Regions from separate parts of the Homo sapiens genome. Here region 1 is linked to region 2. The links come from fine-mapping of genetic effects on gene expression. Tissue or cell type: whole blood. Region 2 holds a variant in brackets; the other region holds the start of a gene. All regions are shown on one strand. Distances are from middle to middle.

Region 1 (5,962 bases), 91 kb before region 2:
TACTTTGCCTCTCCTGCTTTCCCCATCTCCCTGTCTATTCATTTCCTAAGCGGCCCCCTTTAACCCACTTACATTTAGTGACAATGCCCTCCACACAGACCACACAGCTGAGGAAGCAGGAGGTAAGAGTCCGCGGGGAGACGTGCTTGGAGCCAAAGCTGCCTTCCAGTCCTACGTAGAACTCCTCATACTGCTTGGCATAGGTAGCATCAATGGAGGCCACAAAATCCTTTAAGGCCCGCTGGAAGGCAACCAGCTCCTCAAAGGCATTGTTCAGAAGCCTGTACATAAGCAAGAGAAAGAAAAATTAGACTGGGCAGAACTCAAAAAAATGGATCCTCAAAACAGCAGACATTCTTAGATCATTAAAAACAATGAGAAAATCCAGCTTCTGCTTTCTCCTATAAGTCTCAGTAAAACACCATCCTATAAGACTCAGTAAAATACCAGAACTAAGGACCAACTTCACCTCAACTTATCAAAGATATAAAAATGATATTCAGCTAAACATTGGAAGGAGGGGCATTTGGGAGGAAAATGCCAACCACCCACTTTTTGAAAAAAAAAAAAAAAAAAATAGGTGCAGGTGAGCTACGAGGGCTTGTAGATCAATCCTGTTTCATACAAGTCCTCTCCTGAGAGGCTGTTCCAATCTGGCCAAGAGGGAAGGGAGCCATTCTCACTGACAGCCAGTATATCCCCTTGCCTCTCACCGGTTAGCCCTCTTCTCGTTTTTCCTGCGCAGGTCATTCACATTGACAATCAGCCGGTATTGGTTGTCACTGATCAGCTCCCGAACTTTGCTCTGATAAATTCCCTGGTCTTCCTGCAAAACAGCCACCACATATCACCATAGCCACAAATTTAAAAACAATGTTTCTAAACAGAAGTAGTTCTCATAGCCAGATAGCTAAGTCAATCTCTGCAGCAGAGCTGAATCCCCAGTAAGTATGTGCTCATCAATTTCTCCCTTTCATTCACTGTTTTTAGATTCGAAATAACACCCTAAGAGGGGACTATAAGAATTATAATGACTTCCTCAAGGTCCATGCTGTTATTCCCATCATCATGGACAACTTTTCTGCATGCTGTAATTTCTGTCTTTAGTGGAGAATTAAAATGAGCTCATGAGAAGTCTAAATGGACAGTAAGTGCAAACTTTGTTAAAATGTTAAGTTAAACCTAGCAATGTGAATGTTAAAGGTAACAACGTGAATAGATGGATATGTTGTTTCACTGTAGTAATCATTTCACCATGTATATCAAAACATGTGCACTTCAAATATATACAATAAAAATGTAAATAAAACAGACTCTTAATAGTCACATTAAAATGGCTTTTCATTTAAGAATTATGTAAAAAGTAATATTTTTTCCAATCATCTCTATAATACGGAAAGGGTTCTCATACCCCGACCTAAAGGAATAGAGAATCTCAGCTATTTGGTCACATCATCAACCCTTCAAGATGGTTTTTTCAACATTCTATGGCTTTAAGTCTTGGGTTGCACATAAAATCCCCTTGGCCTGCACACAAAACACTTTTTATCTGCATCTTAGTTGGTATTGAAAAAGAATGCAGCCGAATTATGGAGTCTTTTCCTCCAGGTAAAACGTCAGTCCCTAAAATCTGAGCACTCTGCAACGCGGCTGGTCACTATAGCCCTAGGGCAGCCCCTCCCCCACAGTCTCCTCAAATCAAGAGAGAGCAGTGAAATGCAAAAGGCCGAGGTGGGCTTTGCCAATCTGCTTGCACTTAATGGGAACCTGTCGCCTTTTGCGCGCCCGGACCATCGCTTGTACTTAAGAGAAAGCTGGCTTCCTAAGAGTTCACTTATCGAACACAAACTAGCGAGTCCGGCGTTGAGAAGTTACAAGATTGGGGCTGGAGGCTCGGGCCCGGCAGGCTCCGCTGCGGCACACGGTCTGGAGGTCTGGCGGGCCTCTGGCTTCCCGGCCGGGCCGCGTCCGCAGGGGCTCCGAGCGCTAGAGCCCGCGCGCCGGCGCCTCCCTCACCTCGTCGTCCAGGAAGTCCAGGTAATCTCTCTGAGCCTCCCGCAGCTCCACATCGTCCAGCACCACGGTACCCGCCATGCCCGCTGCCAAAGAACTACCTCCACCAAAGTCGCGTGGAGGTTCCCAGGATGACTCCACCCCGGCGCGAAAACTTCCGAACTCTTCCCGCCACCAAAGGTTACCTCGAGGAAGAGGCGGGGACCTTGGGAGCATATAAGCATTATGATTGGCTGAGTTCTCTGAGGTCGGACTAGCGACTGTCCAATCAAAAGCTTCTTCTTCTTCGGGTTTTCCGCTGCGCGCCCCGCGGTGGCGGGAAACGTACCATCCGGGATTCTCTGTTCCTCCCCTCCCTCCGCCTCACTCACTGACGAGCAAACTGACCAATAGGGCTGAGAGGAGGCTCACAGAGGCTGGTCATTGAGCAGCTGGAGGGGACAGGCTGGCGAGAGGGAAAGCATTGCGTTCTGGGAGTTGTAGTGTTCTCCCTCCTTTCCGGATGTTTTTGCAGGGTTTTTCAAGCTGCAGAACTTTTGACCCGATGCAACGACCAAATTCAGAGGATGGTGCTTTATAACGCAGGGAGATGAAAACATAAAAGCAAATCATTTTTAAGATATATCCAAATCAGAACTGCCCTCCAGTGGCATCCTAGTGTAAAAGTGGATTTTGAGAATCTATAGGATAGAATATAGAACTACAGTACCTTAGGGAAAGATTAGTTAAAAACCCATTTGCTATCTGATACCGTTGCCTGACGAACTCCATAAAGACATCGCCGCAGAGAAGGATGAAGTGAAAAAAAAAATCTGTGTTTACCCTGCCCCCTAGAGACTTCATCGTGTGTTATACAAATTTTGGAAACCGTTACTACTCCATCTTACTTAATAACAGGTAAATTAAAGGCTTTCTGGTCTTATAAAAAGATCACAAGATCCTTTTAAGTAACTTAGCTTACTGAACGATCAGCTCAAGAGGGGAAAAAGTGTTTCACGTCACTTTGATTAAATATCAATCAGTAACTAACAGCAAATCTGAAACCATAATGACTAAAAGATCATCGCACGTCCAAATTTGTATGTTTGTTTTCAGTCCGTCGTGGTTGGCTTTTTCTTATATTTCTAGTTTTATTTTGAGATATAATGTATATACAGTAAAATGCACAAATCTTAAGTGTACAGCTCAGTGAATTTTTACCTGTGCTTACACCCATGTAACCACTCTGCACAATAAAGAGCAAGCCCATTGCCCCAGCATGTGTTTTTAATTTTACTGAACAAGAAGCTGAAATACTGGATTGCCCAACATCAGACATTTGATAATTCTTTATCTGAAATTTCAGCCAACTATTAGCTTATGTTTTAAAGTCTTCAGGACTCACTATGTACTGATAAATATTCTAAGAATAATCTGCCTAAACAAAATATATAGGCCATCTATTTGTGTGGGTATATGTATTTCTAGTTATTATTCAGTTTATAGTTACTGTATGTTTTGTGCCATCCTAGTGGGCAGATAAATCGATCCTTAGCCAAAGCAAAAAGGCTGTCATTTGACTGCTTGCTTTTATGTTTATTAACGGGCAAAAAAAAAAGAAAATTCTAGAATAAAGATACTGTTTGCCGTTATATAGCAAGAGGTAATTACTGATTTATTAAGACTTTTTACTCATAACTCTTATTTTATGAACTTATTGGACAGAGTACTGAGATATCCTCTGCTCTGGAAACAATTTGAAATTAACACTAAAAGAACCGGGAAGCTTAGTTCAAACTAGCAAAGAAGTCGAGTCATTTGTAGTAGAAAGTCCAAAAGAGTGGAAATCTGAAAACCACATCTTTGATTCTCACACTTTTTTCTGGGCTTGTTTCCTTATATACAGTATAAGATGAAGAAACTGAATTAGAATATCTCTGATAATCTGTCTTACTCTAACATTCCATGAGCTAATGGCAAATTTGGAAACTATGTAAAGACAATTCTATTTAATGAATTAATCATGCCATGGTCTTTGATAAAGACTTGATTTGTCCCAATATAATCATCTTCAGCTGTGAAGGACACACCGCTATTTAATTGGTGTTTCTCCCTTCTTTCATTAGGGCATGAAATCTTTAAGCAGAGGAAATGTATTTCCTTTGTTATCCCCGACACCTGCAAACTGCCCAAAATCAATCAGGTTGTTGCTACAGAAAAATTAGGGGCATTTGTACATATCTCATAAAAAGTCCAGCTGAGCTTAGCCCGTAGTCCTCCTCTATCCTGATTCAAAATTAAAAAGCACATATAATCTAATAAAGTAGTGTATCTACAGTTTCCATACTTGGGTCACATTCCTGCTTTCCTCCATTTCAATTTTCTTTCCACCCTAGACTTTAATGGACTCAAGCCCATCTCCAAGGCTGCCTAAACGCTAGGGGGCTCCCTGGAGAGCAGAGTATACAGGAAGAGAATGGAAAGAAAACAAGATTGCAAAGAGATTGCAAAATAGATGTAATACTGCCATTTTTCTATGTCCTCAGGGTCCAAAAAATACCCAAAGACACAATACAAATCCATAATAAATATTATTACAAGAAATTATATATACCTTTGTTCAAACTAATGAACATTATATGTTGCAAAACATTTCAAATAATACCCTGTAATTAATAACTTGTTTAGGCACTCAGGAAAGTGCCATAATTCATTAGCAGTCCTTTGACATTTACTCAAAGGCCACCAAAGCTTGGAGGTGAGCAAATCTATGCCTCCAGGTGTCACAGCAGCTCAAGGAATAATCTGTAGGCACAGGCTTGCCCTAACCTCACAGTTCTGCAGTGTGAAGTCAGAATCTTCAGATGCTGTAGCATCTAGAGTTTCAAGCACCAAGACAGGCAGATTTGGTTACTCTTTCTGGCTGCTCTGTATATTACCTGCACGACTAGGCAACTTACTTAACCACTCTGTGCCTCAGTTTCTTCACCTTTCAAATTAGGTTAGTAGTATCTAACTCAAATGTTTAAGTATCCAGTGAAGTCATAACAGATGTAAACTACTGAAAAAAGTGCCTGGTATGTAGTAAGCATTAAATAAATGTTAACCATTGGTAGTGGTGGTGAATGGTAGTTGGAGAGGAGTCAAGGGATAGGAGAAGGGGAGGAAGCACTGTAGTGCATTCTGAAACAATTCAGACAACCAAATTCAAACCCCCTTCCCACTTCCACCAAAAAACTTACAATACAACCAACCCAGACACTTCCTTGAGTGGGACCTTTTTCTGCTGGAAGTCCAATTGGCTAAAAAAAATAACATAGGCAGGGTGTTGTTTGGCTCGGATTCCGACAGTGTTGGAAGCCATCAGATGCATTTACTCCATGCTCAAAGAACATTATGGAATACTAAATGGACTCCTTTATAAAACTCTTTTAAAAGAGTCTGGTCAGCCGGCACAGTGGCTCACACCAGTAATCCTAGCAATTTGTGAGGCCGAGGCAAGTGGATCACCTGAGGTCAGGAGTTCAAGACCAGCCTGGCCAACATAGTGAAACCCCGTCTCTACCAAAAATACAAAAAAATTAGCTAGGCATGGTGGCCGGCACCTATAATCCCAGCTACTTGGAAGACTGAGGCAGGATAATCGCTTGAACCCAGGAGGCGGAGGTTGCAATAAGCCAAGATCACGCCATTGCACTCCAGCCTGGGTGACAAAAGTGAAACTCTGTCTCAAAAAATAAATAAATAAACGAGTCTGATCACCTTTCTTGTCTCCCTTTTGCACTCTTCTGTTGCTTCCTGGAGTCCTTCCGGTTAGATATGCTAAAAAGAGCCGGAAAATCCAGGAGCCAGACAGAGAACATCAGTGATCATGATTTTCCCATTAAATATAACAACACAGTTGGCTTGCCAACAATTAGTGATTCATTGGTATTTGCCAAGGTTAATTTCAGTAATCTGATTTCTTAGT
Region 2 (8,620 bases):
AGTTAGTGTCAGAGCAAAGATGGCAGATGCCTTGTTTGTGTGGGGGCATGAAATCGTGTTTGGAAATGCTGGTTTAATTAAGGGATTCCTTGGAGTGCATATCTAGCTTGGCATTACTCCAGGGTGGAGTTCCCTGTCTGTCCAGCTCAGCACTCTATCTAAGAAATCCTAGAAGCTGGGAATTTCTGGGGCTGGCTCTGAATTGATGTAAGTGGTTTCCTGAACCCACTGGAGGCATGGAGTGCATTGAACATTTTTTCACTATTTTGTATGCCTGTGAAACCACATACATGTCTGTCAGGCAGCTGCACGAGCCATTAAAACTTGGAAATGCTTAGCTTTTGGCTGGAAATGACAGTAGCTCAGTTTGGAGCCACTACCAGCTCAACTAAAGCTGACTCGGAACTCTGATTCTGTATATCTGTAAAAGATCTAGGTAATGAATATTGGAAGGATGTGAGATTTAGTAAACTTCCAAAGCATAGAGAACCAATAATGATCAACTTATTGTTACTGATAGTGAAAAGGTTGGGCAGTAGTGGATGATCTAGAGTGACAGTGAAGTTCTCCATGTGTTTAACTCCCTCATGTTGGCCCCAGAACCCACCCATGTTTCTAGAGAGGCAGGCTGGTCTCTTGGCACCTCTGTGACCTGGAAACAATGCCCTCAAAACCTCTGATCTACAACAGATTACATTTAATGAGCACATGTGTGCTAAGAGTTTTACATGTATTTCTCTCTCTCTTTCTTTCTCTCTCTCTCTTAAACTTTCTGTTATTGAAATTTCAAACAGGCAGAGGTAGACAATATGGTATAATAAATCCCCATGTGCCCATCAACCAATTTCAGTAATTATTAGCTCATGGCCAACTCCATATATATATATATATATGGATATATATATATATATCTTCAGATTATTTTAAAGCAAATCCCAGACATCATATTATTTGTGAACATTCTAAAATGTGTTTCCAAAAGGTAAGGACCCTTTTATTATAATTCTTTAAACTTCACAATAACACTGTTAGATATCACTATATCCCTATTTGACAGATGAAGGCTCTGAGACACAAGGAGTTTAAATTACTTGCCCCTGGTCACCCAACTTGTAACTGACGGAGTCAGGATTCAAATCCAAGTTGCCTAACTCCAAAGCCCATCTTGTTTACTGCCATGCTACATGGTTGCTACCAGACCCCACTGTTGTAGCTAATCCTTGCATTACAGAATTGGATCCTGGGATTAACAAACTCCCACGGACATGACTGTTGATTTCTATGAATTCAACCATTTTCCCATTGCTGCAAATTGGGTTCATTTAGGTACACAGGGACAGAATAGCTGTGAAAGGCCCGTCTGAAAGAAAGAAAGGACCAGCCTGAAATATTAATGGATTCTATTAGGGCAGCAAAACTGATAAAGCAGTCAAACCCTTCTTGTGATAGTGTTTTAAATCTTGGAGAAATCCACAATGAAAAGGACTTAATAGAAAATACGACTGTCATTGGGCCATAGCTGCCAAGGGAACTAAAAGGTTTCTTTTAAATGAATTCTCCTTTGGTTTTCTCTTGGCGGAAGGAATCAGCCGTCCCACTGAGTCTTTTCAGTTTGTTTCTAGCACAGCTAATTGTGTTTATTTGTCTCCGGAATCACATGCCTCTCTCCTCTCCCTTGCTTTTTCTTAGGGTCTCTTGCCTGCTGTGTACTGCTTTTACTGCCAGAAATGTTCTCCTCACCTGGGAGCCAGTTGGCTGCCAACACTGAGTAGGTACTGGGAGGCTGATTCTGCCTCTCCAGAGATCTGACCTGGCCTGGGTGTCCAAGATTGCCTTAGGGTAGAGGGAGAGATTGGATAAGCTGGCTACAAAAGGATCTGTTTTTTTTTTTTTTCCTCAGATGTGTCCACTTGGTCCATAACAGCATTAAGAACAGAGCAGACAGCAAGTAAATAAATCGTATTGACTAATTGATCAAGATAGCTTTGCTAGTTGATACGGTTTAGATCTGTGTCTCCACCCAAATCTCATGTTCAGTTATAATCCCCAGTGTTGGAAGTGGGGCATGGTGACTAGATCATGGGGGCAGTTTCTCATGGCTTCACATCATCCCCATTGAAGTTGTCATCCTGATGGTTCTCATGAGATCTGGTTGTCTAAAAGTATGTGACACCTCCCCACTCCCTCTCTTACTCCTGTTCCAGCATTGTGAAGTACTTGCTCCCCCTTTGCCTTCTGCCATGATTGTAACCTTCCTGAGGCCTCCCCAGAAAGTGGGCAGATGCCAGCATCATGCTTCCTGTACAGCCTGCAGAACCGTGGCCAATTAAACCTCTTTGCTTTGTAAATTACCCAGTGTCCAGTATTTCTTTATAACAATGAGAGAATGGGCTAATACACTAGTCAAGTTCAAGAAACTTTGGTTCTCCATTTTTCCTATCAAAACATCACATTGACTTTCCTGCTTAATAGTTTCCTTTGTCATTGGGATCACTGCACTGATATTTACTCGCTTCTTTCCTCCTCCTCCCCTCCCTCTTTTCGTTTTGTTTCGTTTCTTTCATTTCTTCTTTTGACAGGGTCTTACTCTGTTGCCCAGGCTGTAAGTACAGTGGTGTAATCATAGCTCACTGTGACCTTGAGCACCTGGGCTCAAGTGATCCTCTTGTTTCAGCCTTGTTATTAGGTAGGATTACAGTCACATACCACGATGCCCAGCTAATTTTTTGCAGGGTCTTGCTATGTTGGTGCCCAGGTTGGTCTTGAACTCCTGGGCTCAAGCCATTCTCCTGCCTTGGCCTCATAAAGTGCTGGGATTATAGGTATGAGCCTATAGGTATTTGCTTGATTCCTAAACCTCTGTTTCCTTTTCTTCCCCCTTACCTGTCCTGTCCCATCACAGAAGCCATATAACTGCTGGAGAACTTCCTAGCTCTTTTTTTAACCATCTTACTCATAGAGTTCTAGAAGATGGTAGTTGTCAGGATGCAATTGAAGAAAAGCCTAGAAATTCCACCTTTGGCTCTCTATGGGACATGCCAAGGAGGACCTCATTATTATTAGAGATAATAATTAATATAATATTATATTAATATAATAATATTAGAGATAATGAGGGAAATACATTTTCAGGGACAATGTATTTTATTTAAAGATATGTTATTGCAAATATTTTGAAATAGTTTTTTATTATTGATATGATCACTACTTTTTAAAAACGTTTAGTGGGAAAAACAGTAGACGACAAGTCACTTAGTTGTCTATAGTAGAGTCAGCTCGGGGGTGGCAAATATATGGCTCTGTGCCACTGTTCCCTCCTGAGCCCCACCTCCCTCAAGAGCTTGTGGCAGACATTGTAAATCCATAACACCTTGCCCTCTAAACTCCAGTCCAGGCCTGGAATGCTGCTCAACACGTGATTTCAGGAAGCCATTACCAAGCAATAGAGGTTGGCATGACAAGTGAAATCTATTTGCCATCTCCTAAATAAGTAGTCTATAAAGCCCTTCCTGCACTAAAATTCAGTGAGCTCTTTAGCCTGTGGTCATATTAGGTCCCTAACAGCTAGGGAGCAGATCTCCTCATTCATTGACATTACCACATAGATGCCAAACCCTCTCTGGAAAACAGAAGAGAAAGCAAAATTTTTTTGATTAATTTTTTTTTAAGATGCAGGGTCTCACTCTGTCACCTAGGTTGGAGTGCAATGGTGTGATCTGATCATAGCTTACTACAGCCTCCCCTCCTGGGCTCAAGTGATCCTCCCTCCTCAGCCTCCCAAGTACTTGGGACTACAGGTGCATGGCACCACTCCTGGCTAATTTTTATGTGTTTATTTATTTATTCTTTTGTAGAGACAGGGTCTGTGTTGCCCAAGCTGGTCTTGAGCTCCTGGGCTCAAGTGATCCTACTGCCTTGGCCTTCCAAAGCACTAGGATTACAGGTATGAGCCACCATGCCTGGCTGGGATGCTTTAAACACTGATGGTTCATGGAAGATTTGGAAGTTGCAACTCTCCCTTTGCAACTTATAGTAGGTCCTTCAGTGGTTTGTCAGTAAGACTAAATCAAATCATTCTTAAGGAAGAAAAATGCTAATGCAGTGCTGAAGGGGAAGAAAAGGAATTGAAACCCAGAGCCTGTCCTGTTCCTACTCTGGTATAGCAGTTGTATTAAACTGAATCTAGAT[T/G]ATGTGTAGTTTAATGAGATGGGAAAGCAAAAAACTTAGTGCCTGGTTATAACTAACTTGCTGTCACATAGTAGTTCTCTTTTGAAGAAATTTGGAGAGTATTAAGATAATGCGTATGAAGCATCAAGACTTCCTTGGTGAGGTTTTAAGTGTTCATGACCATATTTTAGACAATGTATTGGACAGCAGTAATGGCTTAGGCCAGTCCGTAGTCACCAAAATCATTGTGAGCTGGTAGGCTATGCAGGCAGAAGCTGTGTGGGCTGCTCCAGGCCTGCCTGTCTCTAAGAGGCTTGACAGAGGATGCCAGGCTGCTTTCTGGGTGGTTAAGATCAGACTGTGTATGCACTGGTGTGGTTTTCTCTTGTTTTAATCAACAGTACATTCTTTTGCAAGGAAAAGACAAACTGAGGCTCATTTTGGAATGCTCTGATTTCAGAGCAAGGACAGGCAGAGATACTTTTCCATTTTGGAAGTCTCAACTGAATATTGGATATGGGGTGAGGAAAAGCAGGAAGAAAAACCCATATAGGTTAGACAAAATATTAGATTAGCCAAGTATTTTTAAAGTATTTTCTAAAAATTAGATAAGATTTAGAGCTTACCCCCACCCCATTAATTGTATACTTTTGTCTAGTGATGCGTATGTAAAAATCATACTTAAGCTGAAATCACTTCTGGCTTACTGTTGTTCTTTATTTTCTGCATCTTTTTGGATGTCATATAAAAAGAGGCCCCCCAAATCATCATTTGCTTGTTATTTGGGAATGCGAAAGTAATTGAATTCTCTGGAGGGATGAGTGGTGGTTGAGGCTGAAATAGCAAGTTGGGAATGAATGCAACTTTTCAGTAGATACTATAATCCTTTGTCAAAGGGAGTGCTGGGGTGATGGAAATGAAACTGCAAGTGCTGACCTTGAATTTCTGGTAACATTGAGTGCTTGTCTCTTCCCAGCCCATGTGATCTATGGACTTGCCCAAATAGCTTCTTGCTGGTACTGTATCCTCTGTTTTCTAAAGGCACCTTAGGGACTTCAAAAGGCACACTTTTGCTTTAAAATGCATCGTATTTTAATGTTAACTCGATGGTAAACTTATATAATATTGGCTGTTAGACACTGAATAAGCTTAAAATGGAAAAGTGACACTTTCTCGACCTGCATTCATCTTACTCCTTGTAATTGCATTCATTTTTTTTCAACTTTAATTCAGAAATCTTAAGTAGTTGGCCTTTATTATTATTTTCAGTTTACGGCATTATTGGTACCAGAAGGATTGTGGTTTATTTTAAGTATATGATTCATTTAATCTGATGGGACTCAGGCTTGGACTGTCTGCTTTCCAGCCCACTTTGCCTCCAAGATCAATGCAACCTCAAAGAAGGAAAGTTTTAAGTTTTTTAATGGTGTTTATGATTGATGTACCTTGTTGATATTAATAACTGTATCTGCTACATTATAGCTTTGATTAATCACAGTCTTCAAGTAAACTGACTTGCTGACATATTCCACTTTAGAGAAAAAAATATCAAAACACAGGAAAATCAAATGCTATTAGGACTTTTGTTTAAGAGCAATTTCGCAGGGAGAACATCCTTGGGACTTGTTTAAGAAGCAACTTCCCAAAAGCCTAGGAAGTTTTGTTTAAGAGCAAAACTTAAAGGGGAAACTTAGTTTTGGTTAAGAGCAAAACTTAAAGGGGAAACTTAACTTCCCCTTTAAGTTTTGCTCTTAACCAAAACTTCCTAGGCTTACCATAGACACAGTCCTATCTTCTTCGCATTGGTATCTCTATTAGCCAAACTTTATATGGAAAGAGATAAAGGACCTGGACAAAATTATGTTCACTTACACATTTAGGAAAGTGGACTAATACATTGGTAGAATGATTTCCAATAAACGAGGTTGAAACAGAAAGCATTTCCTGAATAGCATAAAAGTTTAGGGTGTGGGCTCTGGAGCCAGACTACCTGGGCACAGATTCTGGCTCCACCACTTCCTGTCTGGATTTTGGGCAAGGGACTTCACCTGTTTCCTCATCTGTACAATAGCTAAAAATAGTAGATTCCATTTCATAGAGTTGAGAGGAGTAAATGTTTTATTTATTTAAGTCACATGCAATGACCTTAGAACCATGTGTAGTAGAGAGTAAGTGCTCAATATATGTAAGTCATTTTAGTAATTATCACTGGCAACTGGATAAAGAACAGTAACAGTGAAGAAGAAATGCTATATCTCTGGTTTCTGGCTTGAGCACCTGGGTGCAGCCATTTACTGAGATAGGAACAAGAAGCACAGGACAGAAGTAGGGTTAGTGGAAGAAGCTTGATTCTCTTTTGGTAGTGTTCATTTGAGGTATCTTTGTTACAGCTAAGCAGAGTTATCAAGTGGGCATCAAATATACCCCATTCCAGATATAACAAAATTTTGTGGAATATTATTCAACCTTAAAAAGGAAGAAAATTGGCCAGGCGCGGTGGCTGAGGCATGTAATCCCAGCACTTTGGGAGGCCGAGGCGGGCGGATCACGAGGTCAGGAGTTCAAGACCAGCCTGACCAACATGATGAAACCCTGTCTCTACTAAAAATACAAAAATTAGCTGGGCGTGGTGGTGTATGCCTGAAATCCCAGCTACTTGGGAGGCTGAGGCAGGAGAATCACTTGAACCTGGGAGGTGGAGGTTGCAGTGAGCTGAGATTGGGCCTCTGCACTCCAGCCTGGGCGACAGAGCAAGATTCTGTCTAAAAAAAAAGGGGGGGAAGAAAATTGACCAGGCATGGTGGCTTAAACCTGTAATCCCAGCACTTTGGGAGGCTGAGGTGGGTGGATCACCTGAGGTCAGGAGTTCGAGACCAGCCTAACTGATATGGTGAAACCCCTTCTCTACTAAAAATACAAAAATTAGCCAGGCATGGTGGTGGGCGCCTGTAGTCCCAGCTACTCGGGAAGCTGAGACAGGAGAATTGCTTGCACGTGGGAGGCAGAGATTGCAGTGAGCCAAGATCGTGCCACTGCACTCCAGCCTGAGTGACAAAGCAATACTCTTTATCAAAAAAAAAAAAAAAAAAAAAAGGAAATTCTGGCACATGCTATGACATGGATGACCCTTGGGGATATTATGCTAAGCAAAATAAGCCAGTCACAAAAGGAAAGCACTGTATGATTCCACTTATATAACGGACCTAGAGTAGTGTTCTCTGAATTCATAGAGACGGAAAGTAGAATGGCGGTTGCCAGGGGATTGGGAAGAGGGAGCCATGGGGAGTTGTTTAATGGATACAGAGTTTCAGTTTTGCAAGATGAAAAGAGTTCTGGAGATCGGTTGCACAACACTGTGAATTGATTTAACACTACTGAACTGTACACTTAAAATGGTAAGATGGTAAATTTTATGTTAGGTATTTTACTTTATTTTTATTTTTTGAGACAGAGTCTCGCTCTGTTGCCTAGGCTGGAGTGCAGTGTCGCGATCTCGACTCACTGCAACCTCCGCCTCCTGGGTTCAAGTGATTTTCCTGCCTCAGCCTCCCGAGTAGCTGGGATTACAGGTGCGTACCGCCACACCCAGCTTTCTTTTTTTTTTTTTTTTTTTTTTTTTGAGATGGAGTCTCGCTCTGTCCCCCAGGCTGGAGTGCAGTGCTGCGATCTCGGCTCACTGCGAGCTCCGCCTCCCGGGTTCACGCCATTCTCCTGCTTCAGCCTCCGAAGTAGCTGGGACTATAGGCGCCTGCTACCGCGCCCGGCTAATTTTTTTGTATTTTTAGTACAGATGGGGTTTCACCGTGTTAGCCAGGATGGTCTCGATCTGCTGACCTCGTGATCCGCCTGTCTCGGCCTCCCAAAGTGCTGGGATTACAGGCGTGAGCCACCGCACCTGGCCGCTATTTTGTATTTTTAAGAGATGGGGTTTCACCATGTTGGCCAGGCTGGTCTTCAACTCCTGACCTCATGAGATCCACCTGCCTTGGCCTCCCAAAGTGCTGGGATTACAGGCGTGAGCCACCCGACCCGGCCTGGATTTTTTTAAAGTGTGAGCAGAAAATAACATGTTAAGTCACAAGGTGATAAGTAGTACTATGGAAAACAAAGAAAAAGTAGAGCAGAGTTAGGTGTTGTGGAATGCCAGGGAGAGTAGAAATGCGGTATTAAATCAATAGGGTGGTTGGGAAGCCTCCTTGAAGAGGTGAGATTTGAGCAAAGACTGGAAGGAGTTGTTTGTCTCTTGGCTACTATTAAAATCTGTGTCTAAATCTGCCAGGGTCCACCCGTGGTATGGCAATGCTCAGTCAATAATCAAGCTGTGTATATCTTTTAAAGTACATATTCGTGGGCAGCTGTGGACGTGGACATTTCAACTCATTTGGAAAAACAATCCAGGCAGTCAGGTAGCACTTCACAGATTATAATCAGATATCATCTGAGACTTGAGGTT

The links. PIP is the estimated chance that this variant, and not a neighbour inherited with it, causes the effect.
Region 1: MCM3 starts here. The variant in region 2 is fine-mapped to the expression of MCM3 in whole blood (TOPMed, PIP 0.95).

Annotation. Positions count from the first base shown.
Region 1 is chr6:52,282,581-52,288,542 of GRCh38, forward strand. MCM3 (minichromosome maintenance complex component 3) reads right to left here and starts at 2,162. Exons shown (of 17, transcript NM_002388.6): 1 at 2,017-2,162; 2 at 714-826; 3 at 73-281. The coding sequence starts at 2,094. RefSeq lists enhancers at 2,040-2,119, 2,440-2,639 and a silencer at 4,719-4,788.
Region 2 is chr6:52,371,859-52,380,478 of GRCh38, forward strand. All of the region lies in intron 1 of PAQR8 (progestin and adipoQ receptor family member 8), which reads left to right. Among named protein-coding and RNA genes, the nearest start is that of PAQR8, 14 kb to the left of the region's middle. The variant T/G (reference allele first, on the strand shown) is at 4,189.